Linked DNA regions of Homo sapiens: region 1 is linked to region 2. The links come from fine-mapping of genetic effects on gene expression. Tissue or cell type: whole blood. Region 2 holds a variant in brackets; the other region holds the start of a gene. All regions are shown on one strand. Distances are between the middles of the regions.

Evidence for each region. PIP is the estimated chance that this variant, and not a neighbour inherited with it, causes the effect.
Region 1: TBCD starts here. The variant in region 2 is fine-mapped to the expression of TBCD in whole blood (INTERVAL, PIP above 0.99).

Annotation. Positions count from the first base shown.
Region 1 is chr17:82,748,421-82,756,495 of GRCh38, reverse strand. It overlaps TBCD (tubulin folding cofactor D), which reads right to left and starts at 4,431. Exons shown (of 39, transcript NM_005993.5): 1 at 4,119-4,431; 2 at 281-331. The coding sequence starts at 4,302. It overlaps FN3K (fructosamine 3 kinase), which reads right to left. Exons shown (of 6, transcript NM_022158.4): 5 at 7,519-7,641; 6 at 5,300-6,079. The coding sequence ends at 5,741. RefSeq lists an enhancer at 1,229-1,523 and silencers at 3,870-4,189, 4,880-5,239.
Region 2 is chr17:82,932,568-82,940,658 of GRCh38, reverse strand. TBCD (tubulin folding cofactor D) reads right to left here. Exons shown (of 39, transcript NM_005993.5): 34 at 7,924-8,001; 35 at 3,299-3,388; 36 at 2,523-2,610; 37 at 1,183-1,292. Among named protein-coding and RNA genes, the nearest start is that of ZNF750, 97 kb to the right of the region's middle. The variant G/C (reference allele first, on the strand shown) is at 3,894.

The sequences.
Region 1 (8,075 bases), 180 kb after region 2:
AAAAAGAAAAAAAAACAAAAAAAACACATGAGGAGCAGATGTTGTTTCCTTAGCAGAAAGGAATTAAGTAGCTCAGACACATCTCCCCCCAGCCTAGAGTGACATCTGGAACTCAAGCCACTATCACAGGTCGGCTAAAACCAACCAGCCAGGCAAGCAAGACAGGGACACTTCTTGGCATTTGATCCTGGCAAAGCACATGCATGTGCCAGCACCACACACCAAGGCCTCCGTGGTCATCTGTAACTGAATGATCAAAATCAGCAGCTTCTATTCTTACCAAGGTGCGGGTCCAACAGATGAGGCTGCTCCTGGTATTTGTCCATTATTACTAAAAACAAATATAACATGAAAATTAATTATCACTAGGCCAAACATACCCATGAGCCTCAGAAACCCCATTTTCCCTTGCTAGCTTCCACAGGGCAGCTCCACCTCTTCCCCAGCTCTCAAGAGCACACCTCCCCTCTCACTAAAGGAGGCCACACAGGCCACCTGGAGGGAATGCCCCACCTCCCTCTAGCCTTTTGAGGGCCACTGTGGCCCAGCCTCGTGCAGTTTACTTGCTTGGCACACTGTTCCTCTTTTCCCACTGCCTCGATACTCTTCCTAACAGAGTCTCCTCCTCGCCTCTTCCTTCCTTCACTCTCTCCTGCCTCTGCCAGCCGTTAAGGGCCAAGCTCAACTCTGTCCTTGTGAGACACACATCCCTGGCACTCCTCTCACACTCCCCTGCCAAACATGCCTGTAAACTAAAAACAAAATTCTAAGCCCCCTAGCCATCTAACAGACCCCTCCTCTTGGCCAAGGGCATTCCAAACTTAACCTGAAAAACTAGTTCAGGCCTCATGATATTAAGGGATTGTGGGGAGTGGTCCACATAGGCCTCATTATACCCTCCTCTCGTTGGAATTCAGGCACAGCTGATCAGTATTAGCATTAAAACCGATCTTAAGTAGCAATAAGACACCAAATTCCAGCCTGACTCTAGTACAGCATCACATGACAGACAGCAGGCCCTGAAAGAAATCAAAATATTTTTCCCTAAAATATATTTGACATATTTTGAAATGGTTCTGCTAAGTTGTCTCTTGCTGGGAAAAGCTACATTCTGTAGAGAATCCCTTCCTTTTCTAGGTCTTTTCCCTGATCCAAGAGAAAATTAACTAAGTCTGGTACCTTTTTAGTCTGATGAAAAGCATTTACAATCTATTCTCTCTGAAACCAGCTAACTGGAACCTTCATCTGCATAAGAAAAACCTTGGTCTCCACAATTTATCTTAACCTAGACAATCCCTTCTATGGATTCCAGGTCTTCAGATAAACTCTTTCAACCAATCACCAATCGTGAAATATTTGAATCCACCAATGCCCTGGACGCCCTCCCACCCAAGATGTCCCGCCTTCCCTGACGAGACCAATGTACATCTTACAGGTATTGATTGATGTCTCACGTCTCCCTAAAACGTGTAAAACTAAGCTGTAGCCCGACTTCCTTGGGGACATGTGACCTCCTGAGGCTGCCTCACGGGCACACCCTTAACCTTCTAAACTGATTGAGACTCGTCTCAGATACTTTTTGGTTGACATATCCAGGCACTGCTCCCTTCCACACAGCTGCCAGCTCTTCACAACCTCCCAGACCCTGAACCACCGCTTTCTCCTCCTCTCAGCAGCTGAAACTGCTTCTGTCCAATCCGGCAGCTCCCACCTCCACATCTGAACACACCCACTGCTTCCCAGCAAAACTGCCTTTGCAAAAGTGATCTGTGAGGAAATTATGGCAATGGGGCAGATCTGATCCAGGCAACCCCCTCATGCCTTTAGTCTTCAAGCTGCCAAGCTACCTCTGGGAGACATTTAATTTATAGTTTAAATGCTAAGAGCCCTTCCCCAAAACTCAACTGCCTTTGTAAAGTTAATGAGAGGCCACCAGGCTAGGAGGAGGAGAGGAGCCTGAATTCCGCTAAGGCGTAACCTAATTGCCAGCCATTATTCTTGAGATCACAAGACATGCGAGTTCCCCAGTTACTCCTGCAGACCATGTCACTATTGCAGAACCTGAGACTGGCCTTTAAAGATATCTTTTCAGATTGTTTCCATGTCTGACACCTACACTAGGATCCACGGACCCATGATAGCTCCACCTGGACCCGCCCACTGCTCCTGGGGCCCCACGCAGACGCGATTCAGCACATCACGGAGGATCATTTCCGACTCCCCTATGATTGTATACCCCTAACCAATCAGCCACCCCCACCCTTTCCCCCAGATTACCTCTAAAAAACCCTGGCCCTCAAATTCTCAGGGAGACTGATCTGAGTAATAATAAAACTCCAGCCGGGCGTGGTGGCTCACTTTGGGAGGCTGAGGCGGGTGGATCACGAGGTCAGGAGATCGAGACCATCCTGGCTAACACGATGAAACCCGTCACTACTAATAATACGAAAAATTAGGTGGGCGTGGTGGCGCGCACCTGTAGTCCCAGCTACTCGGGAGGCTGAGGCAGGAGAATCACTTGAACCTGGGAGGTGGAGGTTGTGGAGGTTGCAGTGAGCTGAGATCTCATCACTGCACTCCACCCTGGGGGACAAAGTGAGACTCCGCCTCAAAAAAAAAAAAAAAAACCTCTAGTCTAGTCTCCCTTTCAACCGGCTCTGCGTGAACTAAATCTTCTCCATGGCAACTCCCCTGCCCTGACAAATCAACTCTATCTGGGCAGCCCGCAGAAAGAACCCACTGGGGCCGAGCGCAGTGGCTCACACCTGTAATCTCAACACTTTGGGAGGCTGAGTCGGGCGACCACTTGAGGTCAGGAGTTTGAGACCAGCCTGACCAACATGGTGAAACCCCCTCTACTAAAAATACAAAATTAGCCGGGCGTGGTGGCGCGCGCCTGTAGCCCCAGCTACTCGGGAGGCTAAGACAGGAGAATAGCTTGAACCTGAGAGGTTGAGGTTGCAGTGAGCCAAGATCGCACCACTGCACTGCACTCCAGCCTGGGCAACAGAGCAAGACTTCGTATCAAAAAAAAAAAAAAAAAAAAAAGGAAGAAGCCATTGGGCTGTTACACCAGGAACAAAAAATCTGGCTTCACTGGTCCCTGGATGAGGGTCCCTCACCCTCAGAACAGTTCTGCACGAGAGGCATCGTTATCCGCCCCAGCTTACACCCGAAGAAACAGGCAATCAAGTATCAGGTCCAAGCGACAGGGCCAGAATTCACAGGCAGGAGGATCTGACGCCGAACCCGCACTCCTCCCACAAGGCCCCCCACCCTGCCTGACTCCTAAAATCAAAGCGCTGTCATTCTAAAATGAGGAAGGCCAAATAATGCAAAAGTTCTTCTTACTCAAAGGGTCTACAAAGATGATTTTACTGAATTACAAAACCCCATGTAACTACTTAGCTATGAGCTCCTAAGGACTTGTTTGGAAATAACCCATTATAGACAGCGGTAAAGGTGGGTCTGAACTCGGAGAATTTAGACTCATCGAATGGCCTCCACAGGGGTACCTACACCCCACCCCGCCTGCAGAGGCACGGACCCGGCCAGCCCGCTCTGTCCACGGCGTCCACGGAACGGACAGGCTGCTGCCCTCCCCACCCGAGGCGCGCTTTGTTTGCAGCAGGTTTGTTCCCTGCGTCCCCCTCTCTCATTCCCTATCTCCCTGTCCACACAACATTCACAGAAACCGCGCTCGGTGGAGGCAAGCCTGGGAGTCCACACTGCAGGGCTGACCAGCTGTCCGGAGGGGTCTGGCCCGAGTCTCCCCAGCCCAGGGACCTCCTCCAGTGACGGAGACGGGGGACGGAGGGCTTCTGCACCCCGCCTCCCGGGGAGGCCGCAGAGGCTTCACCCCGTGCGAGAGCAGGCGCTCCGCGGGCCACGGTCCCCCCAAGGGAGGCGCGCGTCTGCCCCGTGCACCTAACGCCGCGCCGGGGTGGCCCTCTCCCGCCTAGGAAGGCCGCGCCCCACCACGGCCCGCGGGACCGCGCACCGGCAGCCCTCGCAGAGCGGCCGGCGCCGCCGGGCTGCGGTCCCCGCCCGGTAAAGTGCACTCAGCGCGCCGAACCCGGGCCGGGGGAGGAAGCGGGCACGCGGCGCCGCCCACGCACCGCGGAACCGCTCCAGGGCCACCTCGCGCTCCGCGCCGCCGCCGTGCACCTCCCGCAGGCGGCCCAGCAGCGCCCGGGTCTCCGCGCTCTCGCCGAACGCTTCCAGCGCCGCGCCAAAGGCCAGTGTCTCGTCCTCCGCCTCCTCCTCGGGGCCGCCCGCGGCCGGTTCGTCGCTCAGGGCCATCTCGGCAGCCTGGGGACCGCGCCCCCGCCTCACGTGTTCGCAGATCCCACTCCGCTAGAGCGCGAAAGCCAGGGATGAAGGATGAGGGATGAAAAGGAGGCGCCCGCTAAGGCGGCAACCGACGCTGGCCCCGCCCCGCGACCTCCGACCCCACTCGCCGGCCTCGCTACGGAACGCGTCGGCCGCCAAAATACCGCGCGCGGGACGGCGCGTGCACTTGAGGACGCGAGCGGGCACGGGTCCCAAAGGCTCTGGAAGAGCGCGCCGTGGACCCCACAGGGCGCGAGCGGAGCCGGGACCGCTCAGCGGGGCCTGAGCACGCGGTGGGCGGGGCAGGACAGGAGGTGGGGCCTGAGACGCGGTGGGCCGGGCTGCGGGGTGAGGCCGCCGCCGGAGGACAGCGGGGCGGAGCCTGAGCAGGCGGTGTGCGGGGGGGCGGGGCTTCGGGATGGGGCCGGGGGCCGCCAGGGCGGGGCTTGAGCACGCGATAGGGGGCGGGGCTGCGCGCAACGGGGGCGGGGCCCGGGCACGCGTGGGTGGGAGGGGCAGGGCTTGCGGTGGGGCCGGAGACAGCGGGGCGGAGCCACAACACGCCGGGGGGCGGGGCGGGGGCGGGGCGGGGGCGGGTGGGACCGGGGGACCGCGGAGCGGGGCGGAGCCTCAGCATGCGTGGACGGGGAGGGGCGGGGCCTGAGCACGCAGTCGGGGGCGCGAGGCGAGCCCCGGGACCCACCCCTCAGAGCCAACCGCCCTGACACTTATTCGCGCCACGCTGGGACCCGCGCGGATCACACGGGCCCCGCGCCGAGTGGTGGCGCGCCCCAGAGCGGGAGCGGGAGCGGGGCCCGGAGGCCGCGGTGGGCGCTGCGCCGACTTTGGCCTTGGCTACCGGGTCCGCGTGCGTTTCCCCTGAATCGCCGCAAAAACGTCCGTGCACAGCTCGCCGTGCGTCTGGCCCTGAAAGCAGCCCCACGAGCGGAGGAACGAGGCGCAGGACGCCAGCCGAGACCCGCTGCGGGCTTTATTGGTCCCCAGGATCTGGGAGGGGTCGGGGGAAGGGGGACAGGGACAGGGGGGACGGGGACGGGGGACGGGGACGGGGGGACGGCGATGGGAGACGGGGATGGAGGATGGGGACGGGGGAACGGAGACGGGGACGGGGCAGGGGGGACGGGGACGGAGATGGGGGACGGGGATGGGGGGTCGGGGACAGGGGGATTGGTATGTGGACAGGGGGACAGGGGGACGGGGGACAGGGATGGAGGGACGGGGACGGGGGGACGGGGACAGGAGGATGGGGGGACGGGGGGATGGAGACGGAGGGACGGGGAGACGGGAACAGGGGGACAGGGACGGGGGCACAGGGACGGGGGACGGGGGGACAGGGACGGGGAGACGGAGACGGGGACGGGGACAGGGGAAGGGAGGGCAGGGGCCGCTACTTGAGCAGCCTTCGCATGGTGCCCAAGGAAGGGCTCCTGTACTCCCGCCCGAAGTGGTTCCAGTGGTTCAGGTAGTTAAACAGCTGGTAGAGCAGCAGCCGCTGGTCGAAGCCCGGAGCCTTGGGGATCTTCCGGTGGTAGGCGGTGAAGAAGGATCTGGGGAACCCCCCAAACATCAAGGCGATTGCCAGTTCAAACTCGGAATGGCCATAGAAGGAAGCCGGGTCGTAAATAATGGGCCCCACGTCGTCCTCAGCCACGTTTCCCGACCAGAGATCCCCGTGGAGCAACGCGGGGACAATCTCTAGGCCACAAAACAGATCCGGGATCTTCACCTACGAGAGCAACGGCTGCAGTTATCGCTGGCCTCTGGGAGCCCCGGTCTCATCACCTCGTTCTTGGAAATAAGGCAAAGCCCACTCGCGATCTGCTTCGGTGTCCAGCCCCAGCACTGCCTGCCAAGCCCAGAAATAGGGGCCACCTGACTTCAGGGGAGTCTAGCTTTGTCTAACTTAGGATTTCCTCCTAATTTAGGTCTAGAATCCCCACACAGTGGAGAACCTCTGAGGTTATAGTTTTAATCGACCCACAGAATAGGAACCAGTGTTGCGCTACCTTAGCAAACTCTGGCCACTTTTATTTCGCTACACATATATGTCTGCAGGTTTTGTTTGGTTTTGTTGTTTTTTTCTTTGAGAGGGAATCTTGCTCTGTCACCCAGGCTGGAGTGCAGTGGCGCCATCTCGGCTCACTGCAACCTCCGCCTCCCGGATTCAAGTGATTCTCCTGCCTCAGCCTACTGAGTAGCTGGGATTACAGGCACCCGCCACTACACCCGGCTAATTTTTGTATTTTTAGTAGAGATGGGGTTTCACCATATTGGCCAGTCTGGTCTTGAAATCCTGACCTCAGGTAAAATCTATCCACCTCGGCCTCCCAAAGTGCTAGGATTACAGGCTTGAGCCACCGTGCCCAGCCTAGTTTCTTCATTAATGAGTTCAAGTCTCTTTGATGTATACTCACTCTGGATTGACATGCACATTCTTTTTTAACATTTTGAGAGTTATATTTTGATTTTTTTTCTTTTTGATACAGGATCTCACTCTGTCGTCCAGGCTGGAGTGCAATGGTGCAATCTCCCCTCACTGCAGCCTCCGCCTCCCGGGTTCAAGTGATTCTCCTGCCTCAGCCTCCTGAGTAGCTGGGATTACAGGCATGCACCACCATGCACGGTTAATTTTTGCATTTTTAGTACAGACAGGGTTTCACCATGTTGGCCAGGCTGGTCTCAAACTCCTGACCTCAAGTGATCTGCCCACCTAGGCCTCCCAAATGCTGCGATTACAGGCGTGAACCACTGTGCCCGGCCGAGAGTTATGTTTTGAAATCAGTCATTCTGGATCATCTGGTACCCACATCTTCCCATGGGAGAGGAACACGATGGAGTGGACAAGTGTTACTGATAGTAAGAACAGTAATCATGGTAAACACCACCATTTACAAGCACCTGTGTTTCACATGAGGAAAGTCTGAGGCTAAATACCTGGTGACCTAGCAGTGGAGAGGGGCACGAGGAGCCAAGTGTGTCTTCACTCCTCACTCCTTTCGGACTCCCTTTTGGGGGAACCCCCGCCCCTGCCCCCCTTCCTCCCTGATGTGTGCTCCAGGACTCAGTGTTCCCTGCTCCAGCTCCGTTTTACAGATGAACCCGCACAAATGCGGCGGGATCATGAGAGGACCAGCTCTTTCCCAGAGAAGTCACTGCCGTGCCCACCTGTAGCCGGGACCAGAGTTCTCGTGCCTCTCGGTCAGCATAGTCCTTCTCAATGAGGTCCAGCTGCGCCTGGAGCCGGTGCCGGGCGAAAAAGGTCGGCCAGTCATCCTGCCACTCATTCACCTGGACAACAAGGGAAAAGAGGCCACTGTTGCAATTCGGAGCCAAGTGCTGCCTAAACCCTAGAGGGACCATTCAAAACCCAGCAAAGATACCTAGTAAGCCAACAAAGGAGGTAAGACAGAAACATAAAATACTCAACCCAGAGGAAGGCAGGTAAAGAGAGAACAAAGGGCAGATGAAACAAAAAACAAATTGCAAGATGACAGACTCAAAACTATATGACTAAGCACATTAAATACGAATGTCAAAAATAAATACTCTTGGTAAATGACAGATTGGCAGGTTGGAAAAATAAAGCAAATCCAACAATAAGTTATGTGCAAAAAGACATTATCTACTAAAAAAAAAAAAAGCTTGAAAGGATAGAAAAGATATACCATGCTAACACTAGTCAAAAGAAAGCTGGAGGCCAGGCACAGTGGCTCACGCCTGCA
Region 2 (8,091 bases):
TGGGACCACGTGTTTGTTTAGGAGCAGACACACACTCCTCCCCAAACCAGAAAACCTCGCGGAAGCCCTGGAGAGGCCACCTCTGTCCTCCGAGGCCACAGCGGCTGCCTGGTGCGTGAGCTCTATGGGAACCCAGCCCTGTTGGAAGGTCACTGTTCCGAGGAGACACCTAGGGAACGTCACCTACGTCCTTGCTGGATTCAACAAGGGGCGTGGACCCCACAGACCTGTAGCAACGCACCGGGATCAGCACGGAGGCCCTCACAGTCGGCACTCAAAACAGAGCAGCATCCACAGGCAGGACACCTGGGACTCCACCACCCCGGGTATGCCATGTGGACACCCACACAGCCTCTGGTTGCTTCAGTCCTGATCTCCAACACGGGGTGACGAGACTGCTCCCCTTTTAGAAGTGTGTGTGTGTGTGTGTGTGTGTGCGCGCGTGCAAGTGAGCATGTGTGTGAGCCAGCATGGGTGCCCATGCCCATATGTGTAAGACACCATCACTGCTGTTCCCAGGAACATACCGGTTGGCCCAGGACACCTGAGCCTGCACTTTCCCCACTCTGCTCTCATTCAGACCCTCCCACCCCCAACTCAATACACACATCTTTCAAAACCGCCATTCTACTCCACCCATGGTAAAGAAGCCAGCCCATGTTGCAGAAACTGTGCCTGCCAAAGTAAACGTGGAGAGTGGCACTATGGCCTCCTGAGGGCCTCATGGCCCTGAGGAAGGGGGTGGACATCAGAGCAGAGGCGTGGGGAGAGCTTTTCTTATTTCCGCCTGTGCCTCTTGATTTCCAACAGGTGCTCACACGGCCTATTCCAAGAGAACTTTAGAGAGGTCTGGGGCAGCAGCACCTGCCAGGCCTTCAGTGCCCTCTGCTCCACAGGCCACCAGACACAGCCTTGTGGTACAGGTGCCCGCTCCCCTGGTGGGATGGATGGCTTTGCTGTGTTCCTGACACCTGACACTGTTTGGGGACAGGGCGGTTGAGAAGAGGTTTCGGCTACAGCAGCACGGCTGCCTTGTAAAACCTAAGCAGAGGATGTGGAGACCTGGGAACCCTCTTTCCTCCTCCTATCAGAGGGTTTTGGGAGAGACGAGTAGACACGGTGGGGACAGGAAGAGGGGCGGTGCCAGGCCCAGGTGGCCGTGCAGGAAGGGCCTTCACTCACCACGCAGTGTCACTGAGCACAGTCACCACCTCGTCCAGCACATCCGCGCCCACGACGTCACTGTAGGTGAGCAATGTCTCGTACACCTGGCTGGCCGTGGTCTTCCGGATCTGGGACAGGGATGCAGTGCATTTGCCGGAGGGAAGCGCCACCGCCCCACCCCGGAGAGACGACAGGACCCAGGCCAGGGAGCCCCGTCAGTGGAAGGCGTCAGGAGGAGGACGCTGACCCTGCATCCCATCCCAGCCACAGCAGGGCTGCAACCAAGAGGAGGTGCCTTCCAGGCCCATTAACCACCTCCTCCCTCCACAGACACACAGCTAGCTGCAGGATCCCAGCAGTGAAGATGACATCATTCTTGTTTAAATGCTTTATTAACCAACCTGCTCCCTCACCAGAGAAGCAATCTCGCCTGCTCTCTATTAACTAACCTGCTCCCTCACCAGAGAAGCAATCTCGCCTGCTATTAACCAACCTGCTCCCTCACCAGAGAAGCAATCTCGCCTGCTCTCTTTTCATCAGAGAAGCACTCTCACCTGCTCTCTATTAACCAACCTGCTACCTCACCAGAGAAGCAATCTCGCCCGCTATCTATTAACCAACCTGCTCCCTCACCAGAGAAGCAATCTCACCTGCTCTCTTTTCACCAGGGAAGCAATCTCGCCTGCTCTCTTTTCATCAGGGAAGCAATCTCGCCTGCTCTCTTTTCATCAGGGAAGCAATCTCGCCTGCTCTCTTTTTGAGTGGTGCCCTGGTCATCATGTCTCACTGCGCTGGTGGTCTGAGCCCCGGGCCCACCCTGGAGGTGCTGAGTCGGCAGCACAGGGCCCAAGAGCTGCACTGCTGAAGCCCCAGAGGTGCCAAGCCTGAGGGTCCGGCACCCCACTTCGAGAACCACCATACAACATGAAGTTACTTTTGCCTTTTAGGAAAATGTCACCTTTGTATCATCTGAGGTTTTTTTTGCAGCCAGGAGAAAAGAAATCCTAGAAATCTAATAGCCGGGGAGTGCTGGGGATGAAGGGCACTGCCCCTAGGTGTGGCTGAACCACTTCAGCCTGGGTCCTTCTGGAAGCTCCTGAGCCAGATCCCACCGCCAGGTCACCCCTCAATGTATGTCCATAGAAACGCCAGCCGGACAGCCCGTCCTTAAAGCCAGAACAGTGGCGTCCAGAGCCCCTTGGCAGCCGCGTGCCTGTGACGCGTCGTCACCCAGGCGCGTTAACGAGAGGGGCTCGGCTGGAAAGCACACCAACACAACAGTGCCAGCGAAGGCCTTCTTGTCACTGAGGGGCTTGTGTCCACACGGCAAACACACGTGAGCAGGGGCAGGCACTCACCAGCGGGAAACGGTGGCAGAGGAGCAGACACAGCTGCAGGAGGGCCTGCCTCCTCACGTCGCCGGGGAACTGCACCATCTCGCAGAACCTGCCGGGAGCAGCACATGGCTCCAGGTGAGCCCCACCCCGCGCAGGCCAACCCCAGCAAACCCCGGACCCAAAGGCCCATGCAGAGACCTGGGCAGAGCAGATCCGTGAGCACAGTGCGGGCCTGGGGCCCCAAGCCGGAGGTGTGTGTGTGCGTACATCTGCACTGTGCCTACACACACGAGTGTCGCACTTGGAAAGTCACTGTGGGAAGTGAGGACGCCTCACAGAGGATCTCCTGCAGGGCCGCTCGCCCTGCCATGAGGACCCCCACCTCAAGGAGCCACAGAGCAGCCAAGGTGCCTATCGCTGGCTGGCGCACCTGCCCAGTGTCCACCTGAGCGCCGCAGAGCAAGGCACTCAACAGCGACCCCCAGGGCACACAGGAGAATCGGGGAGGCAGCCCCTGACCACGCAGCTCCTTTCCGGAGCCTCCCCTCCCGCCAGGGCAGAGCGCGAGGGCAGCAGAGGCAGAGCTCGCCTGTTCCCGCGGGAACTCCCTCCACCAGCACCTGGGCTGCCTCACCTCCCATTGCGACTGCTTTGAACATTGGAATGCACGATCTTAGGTTAGCTTGAGGAGTAACACTAACTGCTCCTCTCCCGCCTGGAGCCGTGGACTCCTGCCCTCAGCCAAGGGAGGCTGCGCCCTGCCATTCCGTCTAAGGCCAGCAGCACTTGAAACTCACACTGCGATGCCTGACAGGAGCTTCTGGATATCTTTTGAATTCTTGATTTCTTTCTTACAGAGCGCAAGCAACTTCACAGCAAAGGGGTGGCTGGAAGAACAACACACACTTTAGAGATGAGCTTTCACAGGCAGCCCCGGGATGCACACTTTTTCTGTCTCAAAGAAGGTCAACTCCGTCCTCCCAGTGGCTCAGTCCAAGAAGCCTGCAGCCCTGAGGCCCCTCTGCCAGCAAGTCCGCTGGTCCCCATCCCAATACCTCCACAGGCCGGCCTGGTCCCTAGCGGCTGTGCCACCACCTGGCCGGCCTCTGCTGTCTCTTGCTCTCTTGCCTGTGGTGCAGCAGCCCCCACGGGGCCCCACCTCCCTTTCCAGGCCCCAGGGTCTGTCCCCAACACAGCGGCGGCCAGGATGCCCGTGCTCCTCCACCACTCCCTCCAGAGGCTACCTGGCCTGGGCTGCTGCAGAGCCGGGGGAAACTGCCGACACACAGAGGACACACAAGGCTGTGCAGTGTTGTTTTGAGCCTTCAGTGGCAGCAGGGACAAGGGCTGAGGCTTGGTGCTGACAAAGGCACAGCCCTGATGAGCAGCTCT[G/C]AGAGGGCACCTGGAAGGCCACTCCAGGGAGGAGAAGGTGCGCACCTCCCTCTCTCAGTGGGGAATGCAGCCAAGCTCCAGCCACCCAACAGGCCAGGAAACCCTCACTGCTGACCGTGAGTCAAGGAGACCCCAGGCTGCTGCTACCCTCTCCTCAGGTGCCCAGAAAAGGCAAACTAAGGTCCTGCCTGCCAAAGCACAGGCTTAGCCCAGACCTCGGCTTGCTCTGAGGTGCGACCCCTCAAACGCAACGTCCCGAGAGAACACAATACCAGACAAGTAAGAAGACAAAGAAACCCGCTCAGGTTGCAACTCAGACACACCCAGCCAAACAGGCAGGAAAAGAGCATTCAAGAGGATGAACACCGGGCACGGAAGGAAGGGCCGCAGGGAACGGCGAAGCGGAAAGCGCTACAAGCAGACGTGGAAACACGCGAGACAAAAAACCTACACCTGAAAAGACGCAAAACTCCACAATAAGAATTCCACAAATCACAGTTAAAAGTCATTTAGAGACATCTTCAGAGAGAATCAGCAGCTGGCAGGCGGGCCAAAGGTAATGAAGCAAAGAGAGAGGGAAAAGACGTGTGAAAATTGCAGAGGGGGTGACCGAGGGAAACACGTGAGCGTGATAATGACAGAAAAACCAGGGAAGGAGCAAACCTGGGCAGGGGGTGGGAAACCCGGGCCGTTTCCAGGGAGCACAGGCAGACTCAGAGGTAACACTCAAAAGCAACAACAGAAGCAAGGAGGAAGTGGGAAAATATTTTTAATGTGCTACAACGAAACAGCTGCCTGAATTCTATATACCCTCTGAAAATAATCTGCACATAAAATGGGAAAGCTTCACCGCAGCAGACCCCACTCGAGGAAATCCAAGGGAGTGTGCTCTAGGGAGAGGGAATGTGAACCCCGATGGGGGGGGTCCCAAAAGCAGTAAGTGATGAGAGACAAAGAAAGTAAAAACGTGGAAAATTCAAAGTAACGCAAATTACACATACCACAATGAACAGGAAAGTACGTACATCTAAGACAAAATATCCGACAATAGCAGCACATAACTCAAGACGGAAGCACGCGGAACCAACACGTTCTAATATCCTTGCTATTGTCCAATAAGGACAAAATGCTGAAAACTGGACTTCGCTAAGAATACGTGGTGTCATTTCTAATTTCTAGGGTAAGCGTTAACAGAAAAAAGTAAAATGTCCCAAACAAATATATGAAAACAATGGAATGACAAAAGCAATTCTACTAATCCAACAAAAAGCACAGGTGGGGGCGGGGAGGGGGCACTGGGAACGCAGCACAGGGAAAAGTCCTGTGAGTGGCAGGCTGAGAACCAAGGGGATTATAAAGGTCATGAAGGAGGCAGGTAAAAGCTACAGGCTGAATTTTTACAAAACCATACACTGTTCTAAGAGAGGCGTACAAAAACATACATGTATGAAGATACTGAAAGTAAAACGATGGAAAAAAGTATACAGTTCAAAGTCAAGTGAAGCAAGACAAAGAATGAGTGGAGCAAAAAGCATCCTAGAAATGGGTGATAAGGGCAAGATTCAGCCCACAAACACGCTTCAAAATCTGAAAAGCCAAAACTGACAAAACTGTAGAGAGAAATACAAAGCTGTATTCATAGCAGGACATGGCAGGAGGTATTTTCTCTACCATCCTATCTTGGAAAAAAAATTTTTTTTTTGAAACAGAGTCTGGCTGTGTTGCCCAGGCTGGAGCACAGTGGCTCAATCTCAGCTCACGGCAACCTTCGCCTCCCAGGCCCAAGCCGTACAGGCACCACCACACCCGGCTAATGTTTTTGTATTTTTTGTAGAGATGGGGTTTCACCAAGTTGGCCAGGCTGGTCTCAAACTCCGGAGCTCAAGTGATCCACTCGCCTTGGCCTCCCAAAGTGCTGGGATTACAGGCGTGAGCCATGGCGCCCAGGCTTATTTTGAAATTTTTAAGCCAGAAAAATATATGTCAATATTTTAGGCCAGGTACGGTGGCTCACGCCTATAATCCCAGCACTTTGGGAGGCAGAAGTGGGCAGATCACCTCAGGTCGGGAGTTCGAGACCAGCCTGACCAACATGGTGAAACCCCATCTCTACTAAAAATACAAAATTACCTGGGCATGGTAGCACATGCCTGTAATCCCAGCTACTAGGGAGGCTGAGGCAGGAGAATCACTTGAACCCAGGAGGCAGAGGTTGCAGTGAGCTGAGATCGCACCAATTCACTCCAGTCTGGGCAACAACAGCAAAACTCCATCTCAAAAAAAAAATTTAAATGGAGTATTTAGCATTGTATTAAAGGATAATACGCCACAACCGAGCTGGGTGCACCTGTGAACATGGAGGCTGTTCCAACAGCAGGTGTAAGAAGGTCAGTCAGTGATGCCCCATTAAGAAATTAAAAGGGGAAACCCTTCAATGCTGTTAGATTTAAAAACATGTGCAGCGTCCAGCAAAGATGGAGCAACAGAGACCAGATCTGCCTCCCGCCCGAAGGTTAAGGCAGAGCCAAGTCCAGCAGGTGGCAGACTCCAGCGGGAAGCCCGTGGTGAGAAGCGGGAAATTCCAAGTCTGCAGAGCTCGCTCAGGTTCTGAGCACCAGAGGGGGCTTCCTGGGGGCCGCTGAGGACTAACCTGGGCCTGGGTCAGCCAGTACCTGAGTACGAGGACGCTGTCCAAGGCTGGGGACGAACCACCCAAAAGATGGCCAGAAGCCCCGGCACTGCCCCAGCAGCGGTGGGAAGGGAAGCGCCAGGGAGCAGAGACCTTAAAGGGGCAGAAAACCCTGGAGACCAGCACAGCTCTGGGTCCACCTGACAGCTTAAGAGTAGCGCCCAAGCCAGGCTCAGTGGCTCACGCCTGTAATCCCAGCACTTTGGGAGGCCGAGGTGGGCAGGTCACTTGAGGTCAGGAGTTCGAGACCAGCCTGACCAATGTGGTGAAACCCTGTATCTACTAACAATACAAACAATCAGCCAGGTGTGATGGTGCACAGCTGTAATCTCAGCTACTCAGAAGTCTGCGAGAGAACTGCTTGAACCCGGGACGGGGTTGCGGTGAGCTGAAATCGAGCCACTGCACTACACCCTGGGCAACAGAGCAAGACTCCATCTCAAAACAAACAAAAAAAAAGCAGTGCCCCCAAAAACAGACCACGCTGTCTCCGGATGACCCAACGTGCCCCAGATACAAATATATCCAGGCCAGACGCAGTGGCTCACACCTGTAATCCTAGCACTTTAGGAGGCCAAGGCAGGCACTTGGGGCCAGGAGTTCAAGACCAGCCTGGGAAACATAGTGAAATCCTGTCTCTACTAAAAATACAAACATTAGCCGTACATTAGACTACAGCGCATGCCTGTAGTCCCAGATACTTGGGAGGCTGAGGTAGAGGCTGCAGTGAGCTGTGATTGTGCCACTGCACTCCAGCCTGGGAAACAGAGCTAGACCCTGTCTCAAAAAAAAAAAAAAAAAAAGACTGGCCCAACACGGTGAAATTCAATGAAGCAAGAAAATATGGCAGCAACGAGATGACCACTCAGAGCCAACAACCCAGCTGAGACCAGCCTGGGGCATCCGCGTGGCGCAGAAGCAAGGAGCTCCAATCTCCTGGGCAAGTCCTCGCCAGGTCACCGGCCTCTGCCCTCTCCCCTGCGAGTCTCATCCCCGTACAGCCGAGGCCCCTTCAGGCCCTGCGGCTCCCAGCACAACCCTGAGGCCCACCCCTGGCCCGGTGGGATAGCTGGGGGGAGAGTGCACAGCAGGGCCCCCGCCTCAGCCCCAGATGGGGCTGACTGCACTTACAGTCATAATATGTCATTATGTAAATATGTTATTATTGCGTTATTTTGAGGGCCAGCTGTGATGACGGTATTTACAGTCACCATAACTGACCCAGAACGCACTGGAAGATCATTTCCTGGAATTCTGATCTCTGTGTCTGATGACTTTTTCTTTAATACATGAGCTACTTAGGCTTAATCGGAAAGGAAGTCATGAAAAGCAGAGCCTCACTCCTCCTCCGTGGTGAAGATGTCGAAGCAGCCGTGGGTGAGCACGTGGTCCAGCGTCTTCAGCAGCGGCACGGACACCCTGAGGGGAGAAGGAGCTGTGAGACCCTGGACACCAGCAACAAGGACGCCCAACTCCCTGAATGGCTGAGAGTCAGCAGGATCCCAGTGG